Homo sapiens: one gene and its partners. The protein of the gene in region 3 purifies or fractionates together with the protein of the main gene of each other region. This does not show direct contact. Each region holds a gene or a part of one and is shown on either strand. Other genes may lie near its edges. The genes, in order: ERCC5, XRCC2, SPTA1 and BRIP1.

Region 1 (7,650 bases), on a different chromosome or scaffold from region 3:
AGGAAAATCTTAGGAGATACAGGGAATGGAATCAAGAATGGGTTCTTTGGACCTTTTTATTTGTCACTTGTTTAAATATCTTTCAAAATATTTATAAGTCTTAACTGCATGCATATTTTGTCAGCGGTATTTCGGCTGGAACAGAACGAAGACAGATGAATCTCTGTTTCCTGTATTAAAGCAACTCGATGCCCAGCAGGTAATCATGGTGGACCCTTCTCCTAAGTTCAGGATGAAGGGTAGGCTGTGGTTGACAGCTGTTAAAGACCAGTTAACTCTTATTTTGGGGCATAGAGCAGACATTTTGAAATTAGGATAATTTAGATGAGAGAATAGAAGAAAATAGAAAAAGAAAAGTTAGACTTTGGCTTCATTTTCTATGATCACTCTTAGGGCTGAACTTTGGAGTCCTTTCATATTCATTTTTTTCTTTGAAAAAACCAGTCTAATAACTGATTTCACACTAAGGTGTTTCTGATTAAATACATTACCCCTTGGGATTTACTTTCATTTTTTAACGAAAGGAAGTCTTCAAAGCAATTCTGATCATTTAAGTTTTTATAAGTACTAATATTTTTAAATTCTATAAACGAATCTTGAAAGGTAGAAGTTCAGTCATTATTGTGTATCAGTAGGAGAGGTTTTTGTGGGAAGGAGCCCTTTTGTATGACCTTTAGTTCCTCTAGGTACCTACTTCTTGCTTTATCTGTGAGTATGTTCTGACTCACACAAAACAAGCTTTCGCCCACACTAGAAACAACCCACAAAACATACATACAAATAAACCACTTAGCAGAAATGAGAATGTAGCTTTTGTGATAATATATTTAAATTAAACCCATTTTCATTAGGCTTGGATAATTTTGAAAAACATGAACAAAACTAAGACAGCATTTCTATGAGTTTCTCTTTGTTTTTTGGATGACTATCTACTGGAAACATTATAAACCAACCAAAAAGGAAAGCTATTTGTCTTAGTGTCTGGTGATTTCTTAATTTCAGATAAATTTTGTTGTAATATTTATCTCCTTTTTCATTCTAAAACTTAATGTGTTTATTTTTCCAAAATTAGAAAATGAAGAAAATGAATTAAAACTACTCATTAGTTACCTCCTCTAATACAGTTGTTAACATTTAGGTTAAAAAATTTTCCTGCATTTATTTGTGGCCATACTAAATGTAACTTAATAGATCTAATCCTCCCCCCCAACTTATTAGCATATTTTCTTCTATGTATTGTGTGGTTTTCTTAATTCCAGATGACTAGATTATATTTCATGAAAGATATTTAAATAATTAGTTCAGTTTACTTGTTAGACCTTTAATTTTCAAGTTTGTTATAGTAATGCTGTGATGAACATTAGGCATATAGCTTTACCCATATATTTTTTTTTTGAGACGGAGTCTCACTCTGTCTCCCAGGCTGGAGTGCAGTGGTGAGAACTCGGCTCACTGCAAGCTCCGCCTCCCGGGTTCACGCCATTCTCCTGCCTCAGCCTCCCGAGTAGCTGGGACTACAGGCGCCCGCCACCACGCCTGGCTAATGTTTTGTATTTTTTTAGTAGAGACGGGGTTTCACCGTGTAAGCCAGAATGGTCTCGATCTGACCTCGTGATCCACCCACCTCGGCCTCCCAGAGTGCTGGGGTTACAGGCGTGAGCCACCATGCCCGGCCAAAGAATATCTTCTTAAAAGTGAATTTACTGAATAAAAGGCATGAATATTTCTTACAGTTGCTAATATATACTGTGAACTTGCCTCTCAAAGGTATTGTATGATGATAATGTTTTTAAAAGAAAGATATAGTAGGACTTAGAAACAGGCCCCATGAAGTCGTGTTGCTCCTGAGGAAGATGAAATGTTTAGCTACAGAAAAATATTTAACGCTCTTTGAATATCTTAGGAAGAGATTTCTCATTTGAGATGTGGACTAAAGACTTAGTTGACAGAGATGGTACAAGTACTGCTTTAGGTATGATTTAGAAAGTGAAAATTACTGTCAGTAATTCACTGGGAGAGAACTGGGTTTTGGGAGATAATGAATTAATATTCTCTGACATAGTAATCCAATGTGAGTGATCAAGGTTGAGCTTGTTGATTTGGTTTAGAAACTTGACTTACTTGTCTGATTTATTATTATTATTCTTTTGTTATTTTTTTAGACACAGCTCCGAATTGATTCCTTCTTTAGATTAGCACAACAGGAGAAAGAAGATGCTAAACGTATTAAGAGCCAGAGACTAAACAGAGCTGTGACATGTATGCTAAGGAAAGAGAAAGAAGCAGCAGCCAGCGAAATAGAAGCAGTTTCTGTTGCCATGGAGAAAGAATTTGAGCTACTTGATAAGGCAAAAGGAAAAACCCAGAAGAGAGGCATAACAAATACCTTAGAAGAGTCATCAAGCCTGAAAAGAAAGAGGCTTTCAGATTCTAAAGGAAAGAATACATGCGGTGGATTTTTGGGGGAGACCTGCCTCTCAGAATCATCTGATGGATCTTCAAGTGAAGATGCTGAAAGTTCATCTTTAATGAATGTACAAAGGAGAACAGCTGCGAAAGAGCCAAAAACCAGTGCTTCAGATTCGCAGAACTCAGTGAAGGAAGCTCCCGTGAAGAATGGAGGTGCGACCACCAGCAGCTCTAGTGATAGTGATGACGATGGAGGGAAAGAGAAGATGGTCCTCGTGACCGCCAGATCTGTGTTTGGGAAGAAAAGAAGGAAACTAAGACGTGCGAGGGGAAGAAAAAGGAAAACCTAATTAAAAAATATGTATCCTCTATAATTAGTTATGACAGCCATTTGTAATGAATTTGTCGCAAAGACGTAATAAAATTAACTGGTGGCACGGTCTTTGTATTTAGTGTGTGGTTCCTAAAAACAAATGCTAAATCTGACATTTGTTTTTTAATGTTTTACTTTTCTAGTATTTTTTAGCTGAATATTTCAAGTATCATTGGATATTATCTTGTATTCACAGGCTTTGTCTTTTCATGTTTTCATTATCTTAACAATGTCTGATCCTTCCTGGTCACATGTTAAAAAAGCGAAAAAGATTTCTATTGATCAGCACTCACTCTCAATAGGCTTTCCCTCTGACATTCAGACGTAGCTGAGAAGAAATACGTGCATGTTTCTAATTCCACAATAGTGGCAGTTTTACACAACTGTTTAGCCCTGCTGCCCACGGCTTTGCATTTTCCCTCAGGTTCCACTTAAAAGCATAGCAGGAGGGAGCCTCACTGCTGGAACATATTTCAATATGTTTGCTGTGGTTTTAGCAAACAATTAGGAAACCTAAATGGGGTGCATCATTCTACCTGTGAACATTAAGTGTATGGGAACCTCTGTACCGTTATGTTTGGCTTTTAAACCAGACTTCACTTATTAGAAGCTGACTTCTGTGTAAATGGATTTGGAGGCTGGGGGCTGGAGTTGAACTGGTGTAGGTGGGTCAGCTTTAGGAGTGGCCTGCAGGGGATGATTGTTGTTGACACAGTGTTTGTTCAGAGTGGACAAAGAAGGTTATTTTAAGACTGCTCCTGTGGAGACGTCTCCCAAGAACAACCCCCAAGCTCCTATTTGCTTCGAGTTAAGAATGATTGGAGGAGAGTACTACCAATTACTTTGAGCGTGGGTCCTCTGCCTTCAGAGCTACCTTCCCAAGTCTGTGTCCTTTTGGCATCTTTAGTATTTCCATCTTTCCTGACTTTTTCCTTCAGCCTTCAAATTGAAAATCTTCACCAATGAAAACAAAATCCAAATAGATAATCTCCAGCAGTCTTTGAACGACTCCTAGATGTGTTGTTTTTTAGGCTCTCATTTATATTGACTTGGCCAGCCAAACTTCTCCAGTACTTGGACTACAGCAGCTGCTTTTCTTTGCACACTATTTTTTCCTAATTTCAAATACGTCTTCTGCATCCATCATTCTTCTCTAGCAGCTCCTTCTAAAGTCAACAATGATTTCCACATAAACTCAAATCTTTTCTTCATGCTTCTTTTCTCTGGAGGTACTTGGAGCAGAACATTTTTGGAGGCAAGGGGAGGGGAAAATTAACTTTTTCGTGTTTTTCTCATTTCTCAGAATTACTTGTCACTGGGAGTTTTCTGCATATATATTTGCAGGTAGAATAATTGTCTTGCTAACAAATTTAATTTGATGCCTTTAATAGATATTTACATTTGTTTTTCACTGCGTTAGCTTTGGGAAAGGATAAGCTACTGTAACAAAAGATGCTCATATACAGTGGTCTGAATAAGCTAGAACATTACTTCTCTCTTACTCAACAGTCTGGCCAGTCTGAGCTGGTGAAGCAGTTGTGCACCATGAGGTCATGCAGTCCTGTGTTCAGCCAACCCCTAGGGTGCTATCTTGCCTGAGTGGTCTATACTGGGTGATTACTTCATCTGCATTGCATCCTGCCAGAAGGGGAAAGAACCAAAGTCCAGGGCAAGCAGAAGGGGAAATGGATGGTCAGGACCATGAGAAACCTGTTCTGTAACACTATTTATATGAGAGTTTGATATTGTATCTTCTTTTTCTCTTAACCCTGTGACCAAGACATAATGCTTTTACAAGGGGAGAAACACGTTTAGAGACATTAACCAGTTTTGCCAAATTCACCCATGTAGTAGGTAAAACTTCTCACCTGAACCAAAATCTTCTAACTCAAAATTCCAGGGTGCTATTTTACCTATGAAAGAGGTTGCCTGTTTAAAATAATCAGCAGCTGAACAAATTCTTTATTATTCACATCAAGTTGGTGTACCTAGAGCTTATTTAGGATGATGACCATCATACGCCTTTTCGATTATCTTCCAGCTCATTAATATTTTGTTTAGCTTTATCTATACTTGCTGTTAAACCCATATATTGAGTATTTTATTTCATTGATTGTTATTTTTCAGTTTTATTTGACTCTTTTTTTTTTTCAATTTGACTCATTTTTATAGATTCCAGTTCCCTGGTGTACTTCTTGTCATCTGTTTTTGAGTATCTTAATCACAGTTACTTTAAAGTCTGTCGAATAACTCCAATATCTAAGTCACCTATGAGTTTATTTCTATTGTCTGTTTCTTGGTATGCATGGGTAAATTTTAACTGAATGTTGGACAGTCTATGGGAAAAATTATAGGTACCCTGTACCTTCCTCTAGAGAGGATTCCAGAATGTATTTGGACAGGCAGCAGAGGGGAAGATCACCTCAGTGCAGCCAGCGAGGACAAAGTAGATTGAAGGCTAGTTTGCAGTTTTTTCTGTAAGACTCCAGCTTCTAGTTTCACCCGTATTCCAGGAAAGTCACTTTCCAGGAGTGCCCTGATGTTTCTTCTTTTGCGCTTGGATCTGCTTTTGCCACTGAATGCTTCAAAAATTAGCCTCTTGCCCTAAACAGCTTAATCAGTCAATTCTTCGACTGAATAGTCAGCACTAAGCGTCAGGCTTCTCTCTCCCTTTTTTCTGGGATCTTGGGCCCACAAATCTGACTGTCTTGGCAGCCACACTCTTCTTTTGTCTCCACAGTTCTGTGAGATTGCCTGATGCTCCGCTGCTATCCTTACATGCGGTCTTCTCTTTGGCTTCCTCAGGAAACAGCAATGCCTGGAATTCTTGGCTGCCTTGACAGCTCTCTGATACTTTATAACAGAGGCATGTTTGTGTGGGGTGTGTGTGTGTGTTTAAAAATCTATTTTTCTCATTGTTAATAGAAGCTGAGGTTTGCTATAAGCTACTTACAGCTGGAGGCAGAAGTCTGTATGTATTTGTTAAACAGTCATGTTGGTTAAGATGCTTGATTGAGGGATTCTGCCTCTTAAGAGATCTAACAGTGAGGATTGCATGATCTTTCAAAAAAATCCTTAAAAAAGACAATGGTTTTTATTCGTCATTTATTTTGTTTTTAAAAAAGCCCCAAAGAAAGAGTATCCTCTGCCCCAAGTTAACTGCCTATGAATAATAGTTCACATTGCTTAGGATTTTGAACTTTCCAGAATGTTTTTACCTATAATATTCACCCCACAAATATATGTTGTATGACTTTTGTATCATTTTTAAAAGACATTTATATTTTTTTGAGATAGGGTCTTGCTCTGCTACCCAGGCGGGAGTTTGGTGGTGTGACCACGGCTCACTGCAGCCTCCATTTCCTGGGCTGAGTGGTCCTCCTGCCTTGGTCTCCCAAAGGCTAAGGCACCCTGCCGATATATACTTGTTCTATAGATGATGAAACCAAGAAACATACTAAGTAAATGGCTTAAAATCACAATCTAATTATAGGCAGGAATAACTAAAATCAGGCTTCCCAACTCCTAGCCCTTTCCAATACATTAAAGTGACCTCGATTCATCTGTGTATACATTATGGACCTGTAGTCACACTCCTAAGTTTAACTTTCCAATATTGCTTTATCTTAACTCTGTAACTTTCTATCAGGGATCTTTCCAGTGGCATGGGAAATGTGTATGTCCTCTGAGAGGCACACATACATGCACTTGGGCAGGTGCACAGATGGATCTATGTTCGGAGCCTGCCCATTCAGTCTGAATAAAAAGGAATCATGGTAGTTTGATTTCTGGGTGCAGAGCAATGCTACAGACATTCTAGTATGGTTGTTGGAGTCTAAAGACAGTGTTCCCATGCAGATAGGTGACATGAAAAATATGTAGCGTTCATTTCCTAGAATGTCATAGCCACGGAGTCTTAGAATAACTCTTGGCATCCAAGTTAAAAGCTGGATCACTTCCTCCAAATAGTCTTCACTCACTTCCGGGAGTGGGTTGTATTCACCTTTAGCTCTGTTCACGAGACACTCGTGGGATATTCCTAGCCTTCTGCCCCCTTAGTTACGGGCATTGCCGTCTCACTGCTGTATAACCAGAGGCGTGGGAGCTGCAGCTGTCAGAATCCTAATCCCTTCTGCCTGGACTCGTTACCAGTGGTAGCGAGTGTGTATAGTAGTAAACTGTGCTGCGATGCTAGCCTTTCAGTCACTACCAGAGGTCCCAGCAGCAAAAACAAAAATTGTGGATGATACATTTTAACCTTCTAGAAACTCAGCTAACTCCTTTAGGTATGTCCAGGCTTTCCATTTAAATATCAGCCTTAAGGCAGACATGTCTTTCTTTAATGGAAGAGATCTAAATTGGGAGCAAAACATGTGACCACTTTTGCTATCGTTTTAGCTGTGTAGCCTCAATGACATAATTTAACCTTGGTTTTCCTGATTTGCAAACTGTAGGGAAAATAATGTCTTCTAACTTGCTGAAGTATGCTGTAAAAGAAAATGTGGTGGCTGTAAAATGTGCTTTGGGATTCTCGGAAGAAAGGAGTGCTATATTAATTCATGGTACTGCAATTGTTATTTTACCCCAGATTGAGAAGTAAAATATCAAATCGTTATTTTCTAAAGTTTGAATAACTGTTAAATTTATTCAGATAATCTGCTCTATTCAAGAGGCATAAATAGTTTCTTCAGTTTTAAATATATCGGCTGTGATGGTATGGACTCCTTAAGGTAGACGCTGCTCAAAAGATTATCTGGCAATGAGGCTGTTTGACATTGCATAGGTGCTAATGATGCATTGATGGTAACAAGTGAACTTTCAATGTTTTAATCGCCTCTTAAATTTTAGGATTGCAGTCTTACTAGTCA
Region 2 (7,918 bases), on a different chromosome or scaffold from region 3:
GAGATCCCGCCACTGCACTCCAGCCTGGGCGACAGAGCGAGACTCCGTCTCAAAAAAAAAAAAAAAAAAAAAAAAATGCAAATAAAAGGTGACTTTCTTCCCATTTGTGATAGATTTTTTTTTCTTTTGTCATATAGAAGGGTTGTCAAATCTGTGCTGATTCCCAAGAAACTTGAGAATCAGTTTTGTCTCCCTTGTGACAGTTAAATCCTTCACCGAGATTGCCCCCTGTGATCCTAATGACTTCCGTCATGGTGCAGACACTCCTCCTCCAGACTAGGGTGACAAACCCCAGCCCTCTCTCCACGTATGGTTTTAACTCTCCTCACATCTGTCCCCTAGTAACCACCAAGATGATCTGTTTGAAATGCAGATAGGCTGGGCGCGGTGGCTCACGCCTGTAATCCCAGCAGATTGGGAGGCCGATGGGAGCGGATCATTTGAGGTCAGGAGTTTGAAACCAGCCTGCCCCAACATGGTGAAACCTTGTCTCTACTAAAAATACAAAAATTAGCCGGGCGTGGTGGTGGGTGCCTGTAATCCCAGCTACTCAGGAGGCTGAGGCAGGAGAATCACTTGAGCCCAGAAGGCAGAGGTTACAGTGAGCAGAGATCGCACCACTGAACTCCAGCCTGGGCGACAGGGCAAGACTCCGCCTCAAAAAAGAAAAAGAAGTGGATAATATGCCAGGTACTCTTTTCACATATTTAATCCTCATCAGCCTTATGAGGGAGGGTGCTGTTTGTTATCCTCACTTGACAGATGAGAAGCCTAAGGACCTCAGTGACCTAGCAGGTCTGGCTCTGGGGTCCCAAATGTCTACTCTTAACTATGTTCTAAATACTTCTCAGTGCTTAGTGTCACACCTGTTGGCTGTTGTCTACAAGCCAAAGATAAGCTCCCAAACATGGCGTCTGAGCCCTTCCATGCTCTGACTTCTGCTCTCTTGTAGGGCTTCCCTGGGTCCTGCCTGTTTGGTGCTGTTACAGTATCTAGGAGTTCAAAGCTGCTCACAGTGTCCCTATGCACAATGCTATTTATAACCTCTGCACTGTGGCTGCTCCTGTTTCTGTTAGCAGGTCTACTAGGCCTGCCTGTGCCCCATTCACCTGGCAGTCTTACTTAGGAGAGAGCCCAGGTGGTGGCTCCTCAAGGAAGTTCTCCTCCACCTTTCTCCTTTGTCCCCTTCCCCAGTGAAATAAAGAGCTCACAATGAATGGGGCAGACAAATGAAGGCAGATAACTGTGTAACAAGTGTGGTAAGAATTAACTGTGTGAAAGTTAATTACAAGGAAGGTAAAAATTTTGCCATAGCAGTTTGTCTTATATCCTAAACTAGACTATCCATTCCTTTGAGGGTACAGACTCATTTTATACTGTCAGTATTTGGTAGATAAACAAAAAGTAAAATATCTGAAAAATAAGTAAACACAACATTTCTCCTAAACTATATTTCCTATTTCATATTTTCTTCCAAATCCACAAAATTATGAAAAAAATTTTTTTTGAGATAGGGCCTCACTCTGTCACCCAGGCTGCAACCTCTGCCTCTTTGACTCAAGTGATCTTCCCACCTCAGCCTCCTCAGTAGCTGGGATTACAGTGTGTGCCACCATGCCCAGATAATTTTTGTATTTTTTGTAGAGTCAGGTTTCACCATGTCGCCCAGGCTGGTCTGAAACTGGACTCAAGCGATCTGCCCACCTTGGCCTCCCAAAGTATTGGGATTACAGGTGTGAGCCACAGCACCCAGCCTAAAGTTATGAAATCTTACAGACTTTCGGAAAATGGTATAAATATAGATGTCTAGGATTTTATATTTTTAAATAATGAGTTTTCCTTCTCTCTTCTTTTATAAGCTCCTTGCCCGACTTGAAGGTAGAAGTTCCTTGAAAGAAATAGAACCAAATCTGTTTGCTGATGAAGATTCACCTGTGCATGGTAAAAAATACAACCTTTATATAAATAAATGCAAATCTTTATAAAAGGATTTTTCACATAAGCTCACATGTATACACATACTCCTCACAAGAGTTTATACAGGTTAAACTGTACAATTGGAAAATGAGACACAGGTTGTGACAGAAAGCTTTTAAGCTTTCCTCATCGGTGTCAGACAAGTTTGCTTCTCTGCAGTAAATCTTCAGAATATGCCTTGACCTCTGTCTTATTCTCAACACACAATATTTATGCAAGTCCTGTTATTATAGTTTATGTTGAAATTCCTTTTCTTTAGAAGCTTGCGGAGTTGTAGGGAAGTCCTTGGGTACCCACTTGTTAGTATTTCTACAACAGGGAAAACTTACTAAGGGCGTGCGCTTAGGTTGATTTTTTTTCTTTTAATGTGGCGGCTTCATAGAGATAAAATTCACCCACCGAAGTGTGCAGTTAAGTGATTTTTAGGTTATTACACAGTTGTGCAACCGTTACCACAGCTGACTTTAGAGCATTTTATCTCCCCGTAAAGAAGCTCATTTCTAGTAATCATCATCTCCCATGTTCCCCAGCTCTAGGCAACTACTAATCTACTTTCTAACTATGGATTTGCCTTTTCTGGACATTTCATATAATTGGAATCATGTAATATGTGATCTTCTGTGACTGGCCTCTTTTACTTTGAATAATTTGCACTGAATTGTATAATTCAGTGTCACCATTTCATAACACGTATCAGTAGTTCATTCTTTGTTAAATATTTCATTGCATGAGTGTACATGTTGCTTATCCATTTGTTAGCTGATGGACATTTGGGTTGTTTCCATTTGCTGGCTGTTGTGCATAATGCTGCTGTGGTTATCTGTGTACATGTTTTTCTGTGGATAGATGTCTTCAGTTCTATCGGATAATACCTAGGATAGGCATTGCTAGGTCATATGGCAATTCTACATTTAACCTTTTGAGAAACTGCCAGACTGTTTTCCAAAGGAGCTTCACATTTTACTTGCACCATCATTGCATTGCCAGCAATTCCCATATTCTGGGAATAATTGTTATTGTCTGTCTTTTTGATAATAGCCATCCTAGTCAGTATGAAGTGTTATCTCTTTGTGGTTTTTGATTTACATTGTCCTCACGGCCAATGATGTTGGGTATCTTTGCACAGGCTTATTGGCAAATTGTATATCTTTGAAGAAACGTCAGATCCTTTGCTCATTTAAAAAATCAGGTTATAGCCGAGCGCAGTGGCTCACACCTGTAATCCCAGCACTTTAGGAGTCTTAGGCAGGCAGATCACGAGGTCAGGAGTTTGAGACCAGCCTGGCCAATATGGTGAAACCCCCATCTCTACTAAAAATGAAGTATCCAACTGTTATTGTTGAATTGTCTGTTTCTCTCCTGAGTTTTATCATTTTTTGCTTTTGTATTTTGGGGCTTCATGTATTGTTAAGCACATATAACTTTTTATTTTGTCTTATTGCTGGCTGACCCATTTATCATTATAAAATGTTCTTCTTTGTCACCTCACATCCATTAGGAAGGCTACTATCAAAAAAAAAACAGGAAATAGCAAGTGTTAGCAAGGATGTGGAGAAATTGTAACCCTTTTGCACTGTTGGTAAGATTGTAAAATGGTGCGACCATTATGGAAAACAGTATGGAGGTTCCTCAAACAATTAAAAATAGAGCTACCATATGATCACATAATCTCACTTCTGGGTATTCATCCAAAAGAATTGAAAGTAGGATCTTGGAGAAATATTTGCACACTCTTGTTTATAGCAGCACTATTCACAATAGCTAAGAGGTAAAACCAACCTAAATGTCCATCAATGTGCTTATAATGAATCCCTGGGGGGAAAAGTATCCATCAATGGTTGAGTGGTGTATACAAAATGTGATATATACATGCAGTTGATATTATTCAGCCTTACAAAGGAAGAGAATTCTGTCACGTGCTACAACGTGGATGAACCTTGAGGACATTGGTAAATGAAATAGGCCAGACACAAAAAGACAAACTGCTTGATTCCACTTATATGCAGTTTCTAAGGTAGTTAAATTCACAGAAAAGAAAGTAAAATGGTAGTTACCAGGAGCTGGGGAGGCGGGGGAAGGGAGTCATTGTTTAATGGGTGCAAAATGGGAGTTTTGCAAGATGGAAAAGTTGTGGAGTTCTGCTTCATTGCTTTGCAGCAATGTCAATGTACTTCACACTGCTGAGCTGTACACTTAAAAATGGTTAAAGTAGGGACCAGGCACGGTGGCTCACACCTGTAATCCCAGCACTTTGGGAGGCCAAGGTAGGTGGATCACCTGAGGTCTGGAGTTGGAGACCAGCCTGGCCGACATGGTGAAACCCCGTCTCTACTAAAAATAGAAAAAATTAGCCAGGCGTGGTGGCAGGCGCCTGCAGTCCCAGCTACTCGGGAGGCTGAGGCAGGAGAATGGCATGAACCCGGGAGGGATTCAGTGAGCTTGCAGTGAGCCAAGATTGTGCCACTGCACTCCAGCCTGGGCGACAGAGTGAGACTCCGCCTCAAAAAAAAAAAAGAAAAAGAAAAAGAAAAATTACCCAGGTGTGATGGCTCATGCCTGTAATCCCAGCTACTTGAGAGGTCAAGACAGGAGAATCACTTGAACCTGGGAGGTGGAAGTTGCAATGAGCCGAGATTGCGCCACTTCACTCCAGCCTGGGTGACAGAGCAAGACTCCGTCTCAAAAAGAAAAAGAAAAAAAAAAACAAAGACAAAAAGTTTATGATTGCATTTTGCTGTCTGTTTTTTATATATGTCTTATGTCTTTTCTGTTTCTTTCTCCTTTACTGTTTTCTTTTGTGTTAAATATTTTCTAATGTACCATTTTAATTCCCTTGTCATTGTTTTCACTATATTTTTCTGAATTATTTTTCTAGTGATTGCCCTGGGATTACAAGTAAGATCATAATTTCTAACAGTCTAGTTGGATTAATACAAACTTAATTTCCATATTTTGTAAAAAGCTTTGTTTACTGTATAGGTATTCCCTACATCTTTATACATTGTATGGTCATCAGCACATTTAATATTATTACTGAATTAAAGTAATTAAAATGATCACTTAAGAATACTTTCTGGCCAGGTGCGGTGGCTCACACCTGTAATCCAGCACTTTGGGAGGCTGAGGTCTGTGGATCACCTGAGGTCAGAAGTTCAAGGCCAGCCTGGCCAACATGGTGAAACCTCATCTCTACAAAAATTAGCTGGGCATGATGGCGGGTGCCTGTAATCCCAGCTACTCGGGGGGCTGAGACAGGAGAATTGCTTGGACCTGGGAGGCAGAGGTTGCAGTGAGCCGAGATTGCACCACTGCACTCCAGCCTGGGCAACAGAGCAAGACTGTCGCAAAAACAACTTCCTTCTTAAATCAGATAGATGAAAAAACAGTTACAAATACAAAAACACGTTTATACTATCTTTTTTTTTTTTTTAGATGGAGTCTCACTCTGTCGCCCAGGATGGAGTGAAGTGGTGTGATCTCGGCTCACTGCAACCTCCTCCTCCTGGGTTCAAGTGATTCTCCTGCCTCAGCCTCCCCAGTACCTGGGACTACAGGTGTGTGCTACCACACCTGGCTAATTTTTTGTTTTTAGTAGAGACGGGGTTTCACCACGTTGGCCAGGCTGCTCTTGAACTCCTGACCTCAGGTGATTCGCCCACCTTGGCCTCCCAAAGTGTTGGGATTACAGAGGTGAGCCACCATACCTGGCCTGTACTGTCTTTTATATTTGCCTAGATAGTTACATTTCCCTGTGCTCTTTATTTTCTCATTTGGATTTCAGGAACTGTGTCCTTTCATTCAGCCTGCAGGACTCCCTTTAGTATTTTTTGTACAGCAGATTTGCTAACCAAAATTCTCCATAATAAAACACAAATTTTGATCAAATATGTAAGACAAAAAACAGAATGGTCTTTGTACTCTCTCTGTAAGGAAGGATATTATTAAGGTGAGCCTTATGAAACTGACAATATGTTAAAATGGGTTTGTGGAACAACTTCTACATTAGAATATTATATTATAGAAACGTTGAAAAACACCATCATGTTCAGTAACTAACAAAAAAGTTTACTGAAAACTACTGAAGATCCTATAGCTGTAAAACTAGTTAGATGAGTATTCCATTGGAACAATAGCAGATAGAAGACTGGGATTATAAAGATTATTTATCAACAATAGAAGTTTATCAGAGCTTGTTACAGAAAAGCTTAAGTTGAAGTAGTAAGATTTAGGGGTTATAGAGTCTCAATGCCATTGTAAACTTTTTTTTTGAGATAGAGTCTTGCTCTGTCTCATCTGTATTTTTAGTAGAGATGGGGTTTCACCATATTGGCCAGGCTGGTCTCGAACACCCAACCTCAGGGAATCCACCCACCTTGGCCTCCCAAAATGCTGGGATTACAGGTGTGAGCCACTGCACCCATCCGAACATTTTTTAAAATTTATTTTAATTTAATTTTAAATTCTAGGATACATGTGTAGAACGTGAAGGTTTGTTATATAGATAAACGCGTGCCATGGTGGTTGGCTGCGCCTATCAACCCATCACCTAGGTTACTTGTCCTGGCTATTTGTCCTGACGCGCTCCCTCCCCTCATGCCTTCAGCAGGCCCCGGTGTCTGTTGTTCCCCTCCCTGTGTCCATGTGTTCTCATCCAAACATTTATTTTTATTTTTGTTTTGTTTTGTTTTGACACAGAGTCTCACTCTGTCACCCAGGCTGGAGTGCAGCTCGATCTCGGCTCACTGCAACCTCAGCCTCCCAAATAGCTGGAATTACAGGCAGATGCTACCATGCCCAGCAAATTTTTTGTATTTTTAGTAGAGACAGGGTTCCAACATGTTGGCCAGGCTGGTCTTGAACTCCTGACCTCAAGTGATCCACCTGTGTCAGCCTCCCAAAGTGCTGAGATTACAGGCATGAGCCATTGTGCCCAGTGCCAAACTTTTCTTTTTGAGACAGGGTCTCACTCTTGTTGCCCAGGCTGGAGTGCAGTGGCGCCGTGACGGCTCGCTGCAGCCTCGACCAACCCCCGGGCTCAGGTGATCCTCGCACCTCTGCCTCCTGAATAGCTGGGACCACAGATGTGTGCCACCACACCAGACTAATTTTTGTGTATTTTGTAGAGATGGAGTTTTGCCATGTTGCCCAGGATGGTCTTGAACTCCTGGGCTCAAGCCATCTGCCCACCTCAGCCTCCCAAAGTGCTGGGATTATGGGCGTGAACCACCACGCCCAACCTGTAAACATATTTTTAATGCTTTTTTGGATAGGAGTTATTCAGTACCATGTACCAATTCATTACTTCTTTACTTCTATAATGATTATAATCTGCAAATTCAACATATTTGTTATATAATTGGTAGGCTGGTACCAAGATGATAGCTTTTTTGGCTTTTCCTTTCTTTTCCTTATTTTGAAGGATCTTTAGATTCAGAACTCTTTCTGACAATCTGTTACCCAAACTCCTTACAGCGTTCTATTTGTAAGAGGAACTGTCAAGGCCAAATCATCCAGATTTTCTGATTTAGTTTAATATCTTCAAGTGCCAAACCTTAGGGATTTTTTTACTGCGAGTTGTCACGTTCCATAATTTGGCTGGACAAGGATGCTGTAGCAGCCACAGAAACATATGAGACGGTGACTTCAAGTACATTGAAAAGGATGATGTCCCTTCTGTAGGACATAATATTTGATTACAGGTTTTGATCTTGAGGATCAAACAGTAAATGTTTATAAAATCAGTAAAACTGATTTCAGTTCATCATTAAACATATTTGTGAGGAATTTAGTTCAAGGACCTTAATGATAATTCATGTGTCTCTTGCAAGTTTGCAGTGTCTTCCCGGTTGTTATAAAAGCCTTTTTTATACCTGCTTTGCTATTAATGTGTAAAAGAAAAAGAGTATCTCTTAGGCAGGGATTTAACCTTCAACTTCTTTGC
Region 3 (7,918 bases):
TCACTAAGTACTTTTCAGTCTCTCATTATGCTAAGTACTTTACATGAACGTTCTCATTTTATATTATTCATTTAATAATACCATGAGGTAGGAATTACTCTTATTTTTCTTTTATGCGAAAACTGAGAGATTAAGTATTTTATTTGCTTAAGATCATTCAGCTAGAAAATGTCAGGAGCAAGGTTCCAAACTAAGTTTTTCCTTCCCCACCCCTCTATAACATTTCCCTAAATATTACTGTGGGAGGCAGAAAGACATTTCTGTCCACAAGGCCAAGAAAATTTCAGTAATGCTGGATAATTTTCAGCACAACCTCTGAGGAGCAGGGTTACTAGGGCAAAATGTGGATATGGGTGGGTTTTCACATGTTATTAGCCCTTTCATCATACTCAACTATAATCAGATGATGTCTAGGGATTGGAATTTCCATACCATTATTTGTCAACTTATGGGTTTTATTATTCATTATTAGGGAAAAAGACCAAAAACAACAACAACAACAAAAAGGAAGAATGAAAGAAAAAGTAGAATGGTGGAAGTTTGCAGAAACTGGACACAGGGACAGGCCTAAAATTAAATTACAGCAAATGTGGATCTTTCTGTGGGCTGACTCCCCTGTGCACTCTCAGTAGTAATTGGTTTACGTTCTGGCTACATTTGTGAGGGGAAGAAGTAAAGGATGGAAATCATTTAAGAAAATAGGCTTGTTCTAAGTTCTAGTGTGCCTGAGGTTTTCCAGGTTTTAAAAGGAAACCTAAAGGTAGGTTTAGCATTAAGTGTCTTGAAGTTTATTTTAAAAGGAGAAGACAATGTTTTTCTGATCTACTGAGTACAAAAAGAATCAGGATTCAGCTGCAACAGAACAAAATGTGGTTAGATGAAAGGGTAGAGTCTGGCCACGGTGTATTTTACTCAGTGAGATTAGGAATCAACCTTGAAGGTATATTTGTTTTGTTTTTAAATTGTGAAATAAGTTAGGAAAACACAAGAGAATATAAAACATATGTGTATATTTAAATAAAAATAATTCAAATGAAAATAAGGTATATCCAGTATCCACATACGAGTTATGAACTAGAATGAAGAAGCGTATTCAAGTGCACACAATTTCTTCTTCATTGAAAACAGTGAACTTATTGTGCTCTCTGGAGGCACGGTAATAGGCAAGATAATCAACAATTGCCTCTTCTAGCTCAACGGGTTAGCCATTTCTCTAACAGCGCATTACCTTGTCACTCATGACAGCAAGATTTCTCTCAAGTCCCTTGTGACTGTGAAACAGTCCTTCAGAGGCAACAAGGTCTTTGCCATAGTCCTCAGAGGTGAGTACAGGTTCCTTCTCCTTGATCCACTGGATGGCTTCAGTCACATCCCTGCAGTCATTAACAAGAGCTCCAACCAAAGAAGATAGCAAGCATTACAGGGCAAACGGTCCAACAGAACTCACAGCAAGGACCATCCTAGTTGACCCAGGAGCAATTATCCTTTCTTCCTACATACTAGCAAAAAGTAATATAAAATGTTCTTACTTAATGGTTATTTCTATTGAGATGTTAAGGTCCTGGGCTTCTTGACAGCTGAGCCTCTAGAGATATGTTCCATATCTGGGTCAGCTCCTTACGAATGCTTTTCTTCTTCCTAACTCCACCTTCCATTTAATTATTAACCTGCTTCCCTTCCGTCTGCAGCGCTTCCATTCCTAAATTACCAATGCTACTTTTTTAGTTATTTTGATCTCCAATCTCTACATCCTTGGCCATAGAGTAGGTCACAGATTTCTTTACCTTCTCCTTTGCTGTCCCAAAGGCAAGTACATGATCCACTTTTGTTTGAAGTGTTGACCATTAATTGCTAACAGAAGTAGAAAGAGCCTAATACAAAGACACGGTTTTTATAAAGCACTTCAAAGTTTTCTATAAAGCAGTGGCCAGATCCATACCTTTTGAATCGTTGTAAGTTTGCAGCATTGGACAGAGCTTTCTGTCTCTGGAGAGCCAAACCACGAAGGCGCTCCCAGGCAGCATTCACCTCATTTTGCTTAGACTGAATTAAGGGTAGGTCAGGATGGTTTTCCTGTTGAAGGAAAACAACACTGGAGTTATACAGAGATGAGATTATATTTAAAAAATTATTCAAACACTTTTCATTTTACATTAGTTCATACTTTTACAGAAGTGAAAACTGACCATTGTAGCCAGACACTGAACTTCATCATAGCCCTCCTCCCTAGCTCCAACTTGATGCACACTACCAAAACCTAGAAAAACAACCTGCCAGATGTTGCATCTGTGCCCACAGCAGTGGACTAGCCTATTAGCACAGGTTGCCCAGCCCTGATGTTATTTTTAGAGCTCCACCTTGTCAATGCTTGAGATCTCCTTGAAATCCTGGAAACCAAGGAAAAGAAGAGGAAATTCCTTTTATGAAATACAACTTAATTTTCTCAAAGACTAGTGCTGTGGGTCTTAACTTTTTTGTGGTCCTCACACCTTTGAGAATCCAATAAAAGCTATTTTTCTCTTCCCAGAATTATAGACACGTGCTTTCACGTATGATTTTGCATAAAATTTCAGGCATTTTTGCAAACCATCCAAAGTAGTGAGATCTGTGAATACTAGATTAAGCTGGAAGCATCAGTCTATTTTCATACTTTGCAATTTTGAGGCATTCCCATATGCCTAAGTCTCCTTACTCTTCCTGTCCCTGTTTCTCTCCATTTTCATTCCCATTCCCAAGTCTCTCCAGACAGAATTTTCTCCATTCTCCTTCTCAAGTACATGGTTCTTTCTATTACAGCAGTGTAGGCCCCACTCGAGAGCACAGAATATAACCTAGCTGTGTTGGATTTATTCTTTCTATGATAGATTGGAAAAAATCGCATGCTATTTTGCTGCTCATCCCTTCAAAAGGTAGAGTATGTTTCCTCAAGTCTTGGATCTTGGATGGTCTTTAACTTGCTTACTGATAGAAAGTAGCAGAAGTAATTTTCTATGAGTTCCAGCACCTAGGCCTCAAGAAAACTTTCATTTTCTATTCTCACACTCTTGTAACACTGGTATGTAAGAAGCATGGTCTACTGCATGATGAGAGGTCACCCAGAGATCTCCTCAATCCTCCCAAATCATCCTCACCAGGGCCCTAGACATGGGATTGAGGCCACCTTAGATCCTTCACCCCAGCTGAGCCACCTGATCACTTCAGACACATAAAAATGCCAGGTAAGATCAGGAAAACAGCCCAGCAGAGCAGCTCAATCATCTGATTCACAGAGTCATTAACAAGTAAGATGTTAAGTTTGTTGATTGGTTAGACAGTAATAGATAAATGAAAAACTTCCACAGCAAGAGAAAAGTGATGGAGGTAGAAAATTTAGAAACTACTGGAAATATGGCCTGAAAGAAAAATAGGAAAACATAGGTTATTTTTCCTACTCCAGCACTCATTCATTCTGAAGTCTTCTTTTTATTAAGTCAGGAAAATCATTCTCACTATAGAGCTGCAATCATAATGAAACTATAAATGGAAAAGCAAAATATAGCCAACTGTTGGAGTTTATTTATTTTACATCTATATACTTACATATACATGTAAACTTATATATATATACACATCACAAACTTAAGTATTTTCTTAAGTAAATAAAAGTAAAACCGCTTCCTTTCCTTCCTCAATCCTCCGAAATAATCTTGTATAATGATATTACATATGCATATATATGTATAAATAATGATAGCTCAACATTATTTTATATGCTCTGCTACTTTATTTTTGTGTTTTTTCATGAAGAAAGAGTGCCCCATTAACATGAGTAATCAGTGTACTGCATGGTACAGAAGCTACTATATAAATGGCAATAGCTTCACTGCCCATTGTGTATTTAATTTCTCCAAACACACAAAAACACACTCTCTCTTTCTCTCTCAACCCTCCATTTCAATAGACTTGTAAGGGGTGGGTCCAGAGGGGAGAGGAAACTGTTCAGAATATGTTACTCCAGGAACATGCCAACCTCTGTTTTCTCACAATGCCCCATCTCCTTCATATCCATCTACTAATGGCCAGAAGTTATTCTTAAGGATAAGAACCCTTTGCACGGAGTGAATATTTTGCTCCCACCTCACCTCGGCACACTCATTGGCATATTGGTTCACTTCAACAACTCTCCCTTCTTTAGCTACCAGCTCCACTTGGAAGTCTTCAAATTTCTTATGCAGAACTTCGGTGCGCTCCCAGTCTTCACCTAGCTCCACTGATGTCGCTATAGCCTCCTGTAGACACAGAAGTTGATTGAGTTGCCAGCAAACATTTAGGAGTTTCTGTAGGTCAAAAACTCAAAACTCCTGCTTGCATTCCCAGGATAACTCAAATGGAGATACTGGGGGAGACTGGGAGAAGCTCTCCTGGAAAAGGCCAGCAGCAGAAGTATATTTGTTAAGGTAGCACCTTGGCACAAGGGAAAGTGCTCTTTCGGGCAGTTCTTTAGCAAGTTTGTGGCATTACTGGCAAGAGACCCTGAAAGTACCCTTTTGTGTTTTGAAACATGAGGGATAAATTCATCCTGTTTCTACTCAATTCAACATATCAGTATCTACGAAAGTATTTTGTTAGGCATTTGCTTATCTAAATCTTTAGTCCTAACTATTAAATTATTCCTTTAGTATTTAGAAAAATAAAACCCTCCATCTTTATAGGCACTGAGACACAAAGGATTAGAGAAAGAGCTGTCAATACTCTCAGCCAGACCCCAGAGTAAGAGCAAAAACATAGGAGAAGGAGTTAAAAATCATGGAAGTGGAAGAGAGATGAGCCTAATTATCTTTCAATGCATGGTCTTTGTGTAAGTCTTGCCTTTTTCATATTCAGATCCATATGTTAAGACTTACTTCCATACAATGTTGACCTCCAGATACCCCTACATTTTGGCCCCAATTTCCTCTTGTTCCAAAGAACAAAGCCAGGAACAGACATCCTGACTTCCTTGTGAGTAGTCTGCAGTAATTTGCTATGGGGTACCTGGGACAGAGGAGTGGGAGGCCCTGTGTGATTGCTGTTTTAAGTTCGATACCTTGTCTCCAATCCACTCTAAGATGTCAGCACACTCCTGTACATACTGCTGGAACTTCAGGGCCCGCAGCAACTGGTCACCCTTCTCCAGGGTCAGCTCTAACAGCAGGTCCCACAGGTGGCGTAGCTCCTCTATATGGGCCTTTAGGAAAGAGGGGCAAAACCACTCAGCCACAGACACTGGGAGCAGGGAAACACTCAGAGACTTGTGCAGAAAGAGACCTGGATAAAAATTCTTCTCTCAGTTACTCATGCATTAGTTGCTCAACAAACATTTAAAAGAGGAAATAGGATAGATATATGGAAATAGCTAACAAGCCAAGCCAAATGCGATCTTACATAAGAGAACAATTTGTAAAAATGCTTTGCAGTTTTAAAGGATGGAATAATTACAAACAATAAGATGGGAAGGAGGAAGAAAGCATGGAAAAGTGTTCATTTGAACTGAGCCTTATGGAGCAGAAAGATTTTTGACAGGTCAATCATAAGCATAACATGTTCTAAGAAGAGCAAACAGCAATAGCAAAGGCATAGGAGAAACTTAGCATGAATTGTCTGCCAGAAAGTGTGAGAGCTATAATTTTTATAAGTTATAAGGAAATCATTGGCACCGAAACAATAACAGTGTTTTGGGACTATACAGTTTGAGAATCTACAGAGGGCTTTGAATGCCAGATTAACTCAGAACATTATGTATTACCTGTCTTATATAACTGAAATTGCCACCTATGTCATATCTTCAAGAATCTTATATTTTTCAACTACTCCATTGCTCTGGGTAGCATGTGGACCACATATGTCGTTAAACCCCGCAATGGTACCATTTGCTATAGCCCCAGTGATTCTGACAGAAATGAAGATGTTTCAAACATTTCTCAAATATTGTAATTAATGTAGATGCTGGTTACATGCAAAACTGTGCATAATACAAAAGTTAATTATACTTTATACAAATAAACAAGTTTTGAAATTTTCCTTTTATGGGTTCTTCTTTAAAATAAGATTCTATTCTGGCTAAAATCTGTGTCCGTTGACCATATTTTGATGACAGAATGGGCTAGAATTTTTATGCTATATATAGAAAGGCCAGACCCAGTTTTAAGATATATAATGCAAATTTGTTTTGACAATTAAAAAAATACATAAACAGTAAAAAGTTCACTCACACACAAAAAAATTGAATTGACAATATTAGCACAAACATTTGGAAGAGTTCGTAGATTAAGTCCAAAAATAGCTGTTACATTAATAATAGATTACAGAGTATGAATCCTTATTGAAATAGTGATGATCTTCATTTCTAGATGTTCAGAGAAAATTTTCTGACTACATGACATTTGGGAGTTTTTAGAAGTAATAAGAAGGGACAGTTTGGAGAGGTGCAATAGTAGTCATAGGGTATGGTGTATGAAAAGAAAGAGGCATCATAGACAAAGGAAAAATATTTTGGAAAACATTCAAATGAGAGAGCATTCCTTATTTGGAGAAGTTAAGAGACAAGGACATTGAGGTTAGAGGAAATAATTAGAAAGAACATTGGAAAAAACTAATTGATCTGGATAATGTGGAACAGGTTTAAGTGGGCTTGATCTTGAGCCAAATTATCCTGCACTGTTATAGGAGGAATTTTATGCCATTTAATGACAGCTTTAATATCACAGCTCTCTTCACCCCAAGAAACACGAAGATATCCCATCATTTTTTATGCCTCAACCCCAGGGGAAGATAAGAGGCAGGAGTCCTGGGTATAAGCCAGCCACTCAAGGTTTATATCTCATATAATCAGTTAAAACCCTGATAACATAATCAATAATTGGAAACTTCTTCAAGGGCCCATACATATACCTTCGTTTCTTCGTGGGCAGAATGACCCATGGTAAATCGTTCTTCCCTTGTTTTTTCCAGTTCAGACATGAGTCTTGATTTTGTTTGCACCTCTGCTTCAAGGGATTGATGCTTCTGATATTTCCCCTAAAGTTTAGAAATCAGAGTTTTTGTCTAATGAAGCACAGTCTTCATGGGAAATGTTCACTCTATGTAAAGCCACCAAACACAGGTTCTCAAAGGGTCCCAGACTCAGAGGCCATAAAGAGTATTTTCCTGTCCCCACTGGCTTTAGGAAGTTTTCAGTAAATACTGTCCTGAGCTATGCTGAGCCTTATGATCTATGCCGAGCCTTATTTTAAAGGCTCAATAGACTGCCATAGGAATAAAAGAGTGTAACACACAGTGTCCTTCCTCATCAGAAAAGAGGAATAACTGATTTTTTTTTGGAAGTAGAGCACAATGAGAAAGATGATAGTTATAATAATGGTTTTTAAAAAAAAAAATTGAGAGTTTTTTTTGCATGCTGTGCCTGTTCTTGTAATCTATAAATTGATCCATTCAATATAGCACATTATTTTGCTCTTGTTCTAGGTGTTTCCTGTCCAACATCAATTGCTTCTGATTATGACAACACCACATGCTATAATTTTAGGTGAATAGAAAGGGGTAGGCACTTTCACCAAATTTCTTCTACTGAAACCTCTCTTTTGAAGTTAAGAGCCATGAATAGCAATTTAGGGAAGAAAAAAAAAAAACTCTGGTTAACTCATCTCTCTGAGAAGAGTAGAGAACAGGTATCACATGCTATAATTTTAGGTGATCAGAAACGCGTAGGAGCTTTCACCAAACTTCTACTGAAACCTCTCATTAGAACTTGAGACCCATGAACAACATTTTAGGAAAAACTTAAGAGCCATGAATAGCAATTGAGTTAACCAGGTTAACTAAATTGGATTTTAGTTAACCTGGTTAACTCTTATATTTCTGAGAAGAGTGGAGGACAGTTGCTTCAGAAGCATTGATGACT
Region 4 (7,863 bases), on a different chromosome or scaffold from region 3:
TCATTTGTCCTTTTTGAGTCGTAATAGGAAAAAAAAAATGCCTGCCTAGCTATCCCTTCAGGTTGGGTTGTAAAGGTCAAAATTATAAATATCACAGCATTGTAAAGTACCATGTAAGTGGTAGATGTTATTCTAAAGGCTATATAAAAATTTGGCCTAATTTTTATGTAGATACTTCTATATGAACTACTTTTCCTATATAGATAGTTCTTATGAACTTATTTTTAGGAGGTGAGAGACATTTATTTTAAGTGATGAAAAATAATATTTTAAAATATTTTGAAATAATCATCTGTATCAGATTGGCAAACTGTGGCCCATGGGCCAAATTTGGCCTGCTGCCTGTTTTTGTAAATAAAGTTTAATGAAATGTAGTCATGCCCATTTATTTACATTTTAGAAACAACAGCAGAGTTGAGTATTTGTGTGTATTGCACTAGAACAGCATAATTGAGTAGTCGCAACAGATACATTATGCTCCACAAAGCCTAAATATTACTATCTGGCCTATGACAGAAAAGGTTTGCCAAACTCTGGTCTATTCCATTGGATATAATTTCAGTTGTTTTAATTCATATATCCAAGGCGGGTGGATCATCCGAGGTCAGGAGTCCGAGACCAGCCTGACCAGTGTGGTGAAACACCGTCTCTACTAAAAAAATACAAAAATTAGCTGGGTGTGGAGGCAGCTGTCTGTAATCCCAGCTACTCAGGAGGCTGAGGCAGGAGAATTGCTTGAACTGGGAGGTGGAGGTTGCAGTGAGCCAGGATTGCGCCATTGCACTCCAGCCTGGGCAACAAAAGCAAAACTCGGACTAAAAAAAAGAAAAACATCAATTTTTAAACATGTATTTTGTAGTATATAAGTACTACAAAATAGTAATACAATTTTGTATATAAATACTACAAAATAGTAATACAAAATTCACTATAAATAGTGAATTCAAGCCGATTAACTTGGTAATCAGGAAACCTAGTTTCTAGTCTTGGTCTTCTTACTAACCAGTTTTATAACTTTGAGCAAATAACTTAGCCTTATGTCACTTTCCTTATTTATTAAATAAAAGAATTAGTCTAGGTAAGTTTTTCTCAGTCACTGGTTAGTGGATTTTCAAGGCAAATGTTTACAGCCTGTTCCCTCCTTTCCTCAGCTCCCTTCCTCTTCCCTTTTACCCCTTCTTTCCTCATTCATTCTTGAGCTCCCTGCTGTGGAATTTGATAGTTTACCAGACAGCATTATAACTTGGGCTAGGAAACATTAGAGACCTAAGATTTCTTTCAGAGTTAATATTCTGTTCCAAGATGAAAATCCACTAGTATTCGTTGGGGGCTCTAAGTTATGTATCCTATACAGTTATTTAGGTATTTCTAATAAATAATTATTTTAACCTAGCAATTATGTTAGCTAGGAGCAGAAAGTTAAATCTCTTAAATTCTTGTATTCTTAGATGATCCAGTATTCCTGGAAGAAGCAGGGAAAGCAGAAAAAATTGTGATTTCCAGATCCACAAGCCCAACTTTCAACAAACAAACAAAGAGAGTTAGCTGGTCAAGCTTTAATTCTTTGGGACAGTATTTTACTGGTAAAATACCGAAGGCAACACCTGAGCTCGGGTCATCAGAGAATAGTGCCTCTAGTCCTCCCCGTTTCAAAACAGAGAAGATGGAAAGTAAAACTGTTTTGCCCTTCACTGATAAATGTGAATCCTCAAATCTGACAGTAAACACATCGTTTGGATCATGCCCTCAATCAGAAACCATTATTTCATCATTAAAGATTGATGCCACCCTTACTAGAAAAAATCATTCTGAACATCCGCTCTGTTCTGAAGAAGCCCTGGATCCAGACATTGAATTGTCTCTAGTAAGTGAAGAAGATAAACAGTCCACTTCAAATAGAGATTTTGAAACAGAAGCAGAAGATGAATCTATCTATTTTACACCTGAACTTTATGATCCTGAAGATACAGATGAAGAAAAAAATGACCTAGCTGAAACTGATAGAGGAAATAGATTGGCTAACAATTCAGATTGCATTTTAGCTAAAGACCTTTTTGAAATTAGAACTATAAAAGAAGTAGATTCAGCCAGAGAAGTGAAAGCTGAGGATTGCATAGATACAAAGTTGAATGGAATTCTGCATATTGAAGAAAGTAAAATTGATGACATTGATGGTAATGTAAAAACAACTTGGATAAATGAACTGGAACTGGGAAAAACTCATGAAATAGAAATAAAGAACTTTAAACCATCTCCTTCCAAAAATAAAGGCATGTTTCCTGGTTTTAAGTAATAATACTTAACTCTCAAGCTAAGTAAAAATATGTCATCATGCTTATGTTAAACTCTGTTGTAAGTAATAATTTGTAAATTGAATAAGTGGCATACTTTTTAAAAAACTATTTTATGTTCAGAAATGTAAATGTTATTATTCTTGAGTTTTTGGGTTTTTTTTTTTGAGACAGAGTCTTGGTCTGTTGCCCAGGCTGGAATGCAGTGGTGTGCTCTGGGCTCACTGCAACCTTCACCTCCAGGTTCAAGTGATTCTCCTGCCTCAGCCTTCTGAGTAGCTGGGACTACAGGTGTGCACCACCATGCCCAGCTAGTTTTTGTATTTTTAGTAGAGATGGGGTTTCACCATGTTGGCCAGGCTGGTCTCGAACTCCTGGCCTCGTGATCTGCCCTTCTCTGCCTCCCTAAGTTGCTGGGATTACAGGTGTGAGCCACAGTGCCTGGCCCATTCTTGAGTTTTGATAAAGTAATTCATACAAAGTACTGTCCTCAAATAAGTCTTCCTTAGCTAAATGCAATTTAAAATTATTCAAAGATCCTAGGGCACTTCTAGTTTCACGTAAATATTCATATTAGGTGGTTCTCTTCATCCATTTGTTTTCACACTGATACATAAAAATTAACAGCAGTCTAATCTAGTGACACCTCAGTCATATTTCGCTATAGATTTTACCTCAAATCAGTCCAAGACTTTTTCAGAGATCACCATTTGTCTTGAAAGGTTTATTTCGTTATTAAACTGCCTACTTATAAGTAATTAAGAGAAATTAAGAAAGTAGTATGCATTTTTAATTGAAATTGTTTTACATTCTTTGTATAATAAACCTAAAACCAAACATGTCATAAACAAATTGACGTAAAGATATAAAATGCCAAATGAAGTATTCCAAATTTTCTATTCTAATTATTTAGCTTCACCATCATTGTGGAAAAAAATACTAGATCCTGCTTAGTATTATATATTTTTCCTAGTGGATCAGTGAGTAATAAGTACCAAACACTAGACTAGAAGGTAATTTCTACATTGTTTAGAAAGGGTGAAACAATTTATCCCCTCTGGTATTGTTCTAGCATAAGCTTTAGTTATACAATGATTAAGATAGAAAACTTCATATATAAATTTGATAAGCAAACCCACATTTATAGCTGCAGCTAAAATATGTTTCCTTAGGGCACAGTAATCCTTTCTGTGAATTTTGACCTTGTTTGTGTTTTTGTGAATGAAGCTATATGTCTAATCAAAAATGATTATAAAAGAGGCTCATCTCTGACATCATTCCAAAAATACATTCATTGATCTCTTTTTAAGAAACATCTGTTATTCACTGGGCATTGGGACTTTTTGTGAGTAATTTGAATTGAAATTTTATGAGCTATCCAAGAATTCTGTATGGTCTATTATTTTCAAGTCAAAATTTCCAGTAAGGATTTACTTTACATTTCATTTGGATAAATGAATCATTATATAGGTATGTCTTTGCTTCCATTTTGAGACATTTAGATTTTTACAGCCTGTTTCTATAGCATTTGATGTTACAACTCTAAGCGTAGTTCAAAGACATTTAAATTGACAAGTTACCAGTTAAAGAATTTAGAATATATTAGATCCCATCTAGTATTATATATTTTTTCTAGTTGATCATTGAGCAGTAAATACCAAATACTCGATTAGAAGGTAATTTTTACATTGTTTTGAAAGGGTGAAACAATTTATCTCCTCTGGTATTATTCTTAAACCACAGATAGGGATAGTAGGGTAGTGAAACGAATAAATACCTGGTAGAAGACAAGAGACTTGGGCTCTACACCTGGCTCTGCCACTGATTTGCTAAGTCATATTGGCAATCACCACACCCTTCAGGGAATTAGTTTCATCTGTAAAATGCAGCGGTTAGTACTATAAAATCATACAAATTTCTTTGTGCTTTGAGAATCTATAAAGGAATGTCTGTTGATATTCTGAGTCGATTTTCATTTGCTTTTGTTCCAGAACGGTTAAAATAAAGCATATTATTTCATTTAAAAAGTAAAGTGGCTCTTACTCATTTACATTTAGGGAACGATGGTGACGTGGTTTGGCTATGTCCCCAGCCAGATCTCATCTTGAATTGTAGTTCCCATAATCCCGACGTGTTGTGGGAAGGACCCAGTGGGAGGTAATTGAATCGTGGGGGCGGTTACCCTCATGCGGTTCTCGTGATACTGAGTTCTTATGAGACCTGATGATTTTATAAGGAGCTTTTCCCTGCTTCACTCTCATTCTTCTCTCCTGCTGCCCTGTGAAAAGTTGCCTTCCGCCATGATTGTAAGTTTCTTGAGGCCTCCTCAGTCATGCAGAACTGTGAGTCAATTAAACCTCTTTCCTTTATAAATTACCCAGTCTTGGGTATGACTTTATTAGCAGCATGAGAACAGACTGACACAGATGGTATATGTGCATAATAACTTGGAAAGCTAGATATTTATTTTCGCAATGCTACAATTAAAACATTTTGAGGACTTTTAAAATTACCTTTAGGGCCAGGCGCGGTGGCTCACGCCTGTAATCCCAGCACTTTGGGAGGCCGAGGCGGGCGGATCACGAGGTCAGGAGATCGAGACCATCCTGGTTAACACGGTGAAACCCCGTCTCTACTAAAAATACAAAAAATTAGCCAGGCGTGGTGGCGGGCGCCTGTAGTCCCAGCTACTCAGGAGGCTGAGGCAGGAGAATGGCGTGAACCCGGGAGGTGGAGCTTGCAGTGAGCCGAGATTGCGCCACTGCACTCCAGCCTGGGCGACAGAGCGGGACTCCGTCTCAAAAAAAAAAAAAAAAAGAAATTACCTTTAGAATTGGTAAACTACATGAGAAAATTAAGCATATTATTCATATCTTAGTGTTATTACCCAACTTCATCTCCAATACTTTCCCCTTTCCCTAGCTAGATATGTTTTTGTTTGTTTGTTTTAGACAGTCTTGCTCTGTCGCTCAGGCTGGAGTGCAAAGGCACGATCTTGGCTCACTGCAACCTCTGCCTCGCAGGTTAAAGCGATTCTCATGTCTCAGCCTCCTGCGTAGCTGGGATTACAGGTGTACACCACTGCACCCAGCTAATTTTTTTTTTTTTTTTTTTTTAAGTATCGACAGGGTTTCACCATGTTGGCCAGGCTGGTCTCAAACTCCTGACCTCAAGTGATCTGCCCACCTCGGCCTCCCAAAGTGTTGGGATTACAGGCGTGAGCCACCATGCCTGGCCTAGATATTTTTTATTCTTTCCAAAATTTAATTCTCCCTGAAGTTAAAAATTTTCATTACTGAGAATGTACATAGAGATGTGTCACAACCCTTTAGTAATTCCAAAAGGTGTTTCAAAAATTTTATACAATGATAATCACTGTTGAAACAGGTGTATATTCTCCTCAGATCATGACTGACCAAGATGATATTCCAAGAAGTAAACTACTGGCCTTTATAGAGTAGGATGTAGGCCATTTTCATTACTGATAACATACTTTTAAAAGAAATGTTTACAGATTTAAATAAGTTAAAACATCTAAATGCTTTTAAAAGAGCACCTGGCACATTGCAAGTTATTCATTATTAATTAGTAGATGAATCATATATCTGGAGTGCACCCTTGCTCTATATGAAAGCTTCCCTAACTATAGATATATAGGTGATAGACTGACAATAAAGATTTGAGGAAAGAAAAATTATTTGGCTGGCTTATTTTTTAAGCTTTTGAGATGTATAAGGTAGAGATTGTTTATCAAATAATTTATGTGACACATTCAATGCATATGAAATAATTATCTAATACTGAATTTATTCAAGGACTGAAAGTATATAGAGCACACAGGCTGCAAACCAGGAAAACTACCAGTTAGAGACAGGGCTTTATTCTTGGAATAAAGGTACAATGTAAAGAGTAGATGTTTCATGACTTGATTAAATTATTTAAAACTGTCTAGAATTGTGTTATAAAACTATTACTATGTTTCTATGCACTTAGTTATTACATGGGTTTAAATTTGGCACTGTTTCTAAGTTTCTATAAGGCTTTGTTGTTAAGATCTTTCTATTCAAAACATTAATTTTAACAAAAAGCTTTTCCCCGTTATTTTTCTGCAACTGGACTTTTTTGTATTACTTTCCTATATTAAAACGCATTTAAAATATTTAATTCTTTAGGGCTGCTTACAAAATTTCATGAAATCAAAGCACCTGTTGTCAAATCACTTGAAAGGCTGGTTATCATGGTCATCTCTAAGTGATGGCATTCTTTTGTATTTGATTACCACACAATTATTCTCGCATATGCTCTTTTAAACGCTGATTTCTCAATGAGTTACACAAGAATTTAACCTTTATGAATTCTTGGTGGTTTATTATCTATTTCCATAGGTAAATGCAGTTAATCTTTTGTAAATAGATAGTATTGATGATAATCAAAAAAAATTTTAAGACCAGATCAAGCAATGAATGTAAGAAAGCTAAAACCTTAACGTAAAATAACTGCAGAGCTATGAAAAATACAATAAAGAACATCAGGAAATAGAAATTTGGAAAAGTGACCAAGGCTTATGATCCTCTAGCCTTAAACAATTTTCATGTCTCAAAAAAAAAAAAAAAGAATTTTGTTTCTTAAGTTTCATTTGATAGAACCATTAGCTGCCTGGCTTCCTGTACTCCACAATGGAGCCTTGTTATAATATACATGGGATCTGAGCCAGCAGATCACCTTATTGGTAAGACTACCTTATAATGAGGTGCTTTCAGTAACTAAACCCTCTTGGACCAGGTCCAAAACAACCCATCTTACACCAAATTCCACTCTGTAATAAACAAGCGTCAATGTATTGGAAAGAAAACAAAAGCTATATGAAATTTACTGTTCCCAGAAATTAACCTTTGAAAACCCAATGGTAAATACTGATTAAAAGGAATGTGTAACAAGGCATAATTAGATAGATATTTTAGTACATTTTATAATAACTTTGTATTTTCTTGGCTCAGTCTTCCTTTATTCGGGAATTTATATTATTTTGATTATCTTAACGCTTTCCCCAAAATTTCATCATTTCACATGAAAATATTTTACATTAATATTTATAGAATTCAATATTAAAGTTTGATTTGGCTCCTTGCTATTATAAAACACAAAATTGTACAAGAGGCATACCATTTCTGTAAACTAGGTGCCATTATCTTTTATATATGATTCACATATAGTTGAAAAGTTTTAAAAGTATTTAGTACTGTTTGTTATTATTTTAGATGCAGTATTGTCTTCGTATATTTTCCCTGTTTTTCTTTTTTTTCCTGTATTTTTATTTTTTTAATTAATTTATTTTTATTATACTTTAAGTTCTAGGGTATATGTGCACAACGTGCAGGTTTGTTACATAGGTATACATGTGCCATGCTGGTTTGCTGCACCCATCAACTCATCATTTACATTAGGTATTACTCCTAAGCTATCCCTCCCCCAGACCCCCACCCCCAGACAGGCCCCAGTGTGTGATGTTCCCCACCCTGTGTCCAAGTGTTCTCATTGTTCAATTCCCACCTATGAGTGAGAACACGGGGTG

Evidence for each region.
Region 1: the proteins of SPTA1 (region 3) and ERCC5 purify together in Homo sapiens (affinity purification with western blotting, with the first as the bait; one study listed by BioGRID). This does not show direct contact.
Region 2: the proteins of SPTA1 (region 3) and XRCC2 purify together in Homo sapiens (affinity purification with western blotting, with the first as the bait; one study listed by BioGRID). This does not show direct contact.
Region 4: the proteins of SPTA1 (region 3) and BRIP1 purify together in Homo sapiens (affinity purification with western blotting; one study listed by BioGRID). This does not show direct contact.

The regions. Positions count from the first base shown.
Region 1 is NC_000013.11:102,873,145-102,880,794, forward strand, and holds the end of ERCC5 (DNA excision repair protein ERCC-5), read left to right. Parts: intron 1-114; coding exon 115-199; intron 200-2,162; coding exon 2,163-2,759; 3' UTR 2,760-2,851; downstream 2,852-7,650. Other genes in the region: BIVM-ERCC5 protein, read left to right, coding at 115-199, 2,163-2,759. UniProt on the Homo sapiens protein: Single-stranded structure-specific DNA endonuclease involved in DNA excision repair. Makes the 3'incision in DNA nucleotide excision repair (NER).
Region 2 is NC_000007.14:152,654,724-152,662,641, reverse strand, and holds part of XRCC2 (DNA repair protein XRCC2), read left to right. Parts: intron 1-1,859; coding exon 1,860-1,941; intron 1,942-7,918. UniProt on the Homo sapiens protein: Involved in the homologous recombination repair (HRR) pathway of double-stranded DNA, thought to repair chromosomal fragmentation, translocations and deletions. Part of the RAD51 paralog protein complex BCDX2 which acts in the BRCA1-BRCA2-dependent HR pathway.
Region 3 is NC_000001.11:158,676,462-158,684,379, forward strand, and holds part of SPTA1 (spectrin alpha chain, erythrocytic 1), read right to left. Parts: intron 7,036-7,918; coding exon 6,910-7,035; intron 5,207-6,909; coding exon 5,066-5,206; intron 4,269-5,065; coding exon 4,122-4,268; intron 2,074-4,121; coding exon 1,940-2,073; intron 1,374-1,939; coding exon 1,229-1,373; intron 1-1,228.
Region 4 is NC_000017.11:61,677,726-61,685,588, reverse strand, and holds the end of BRIP1 (Fanconi anemia group J protein), read left to right. Parts: intron 1-1,448; coding exon 1,449-2,293; 3' UTR 2,294-6,450; downstream 6,451-7,863. UniProt on the Homo sapiens protein: DNA-dependent ATPase and 5'-3' DNA helicase required for the maintenance of chromosomal stability. Acts late in the Fanconi anemia pathway, after FANCD2 ubiquitination.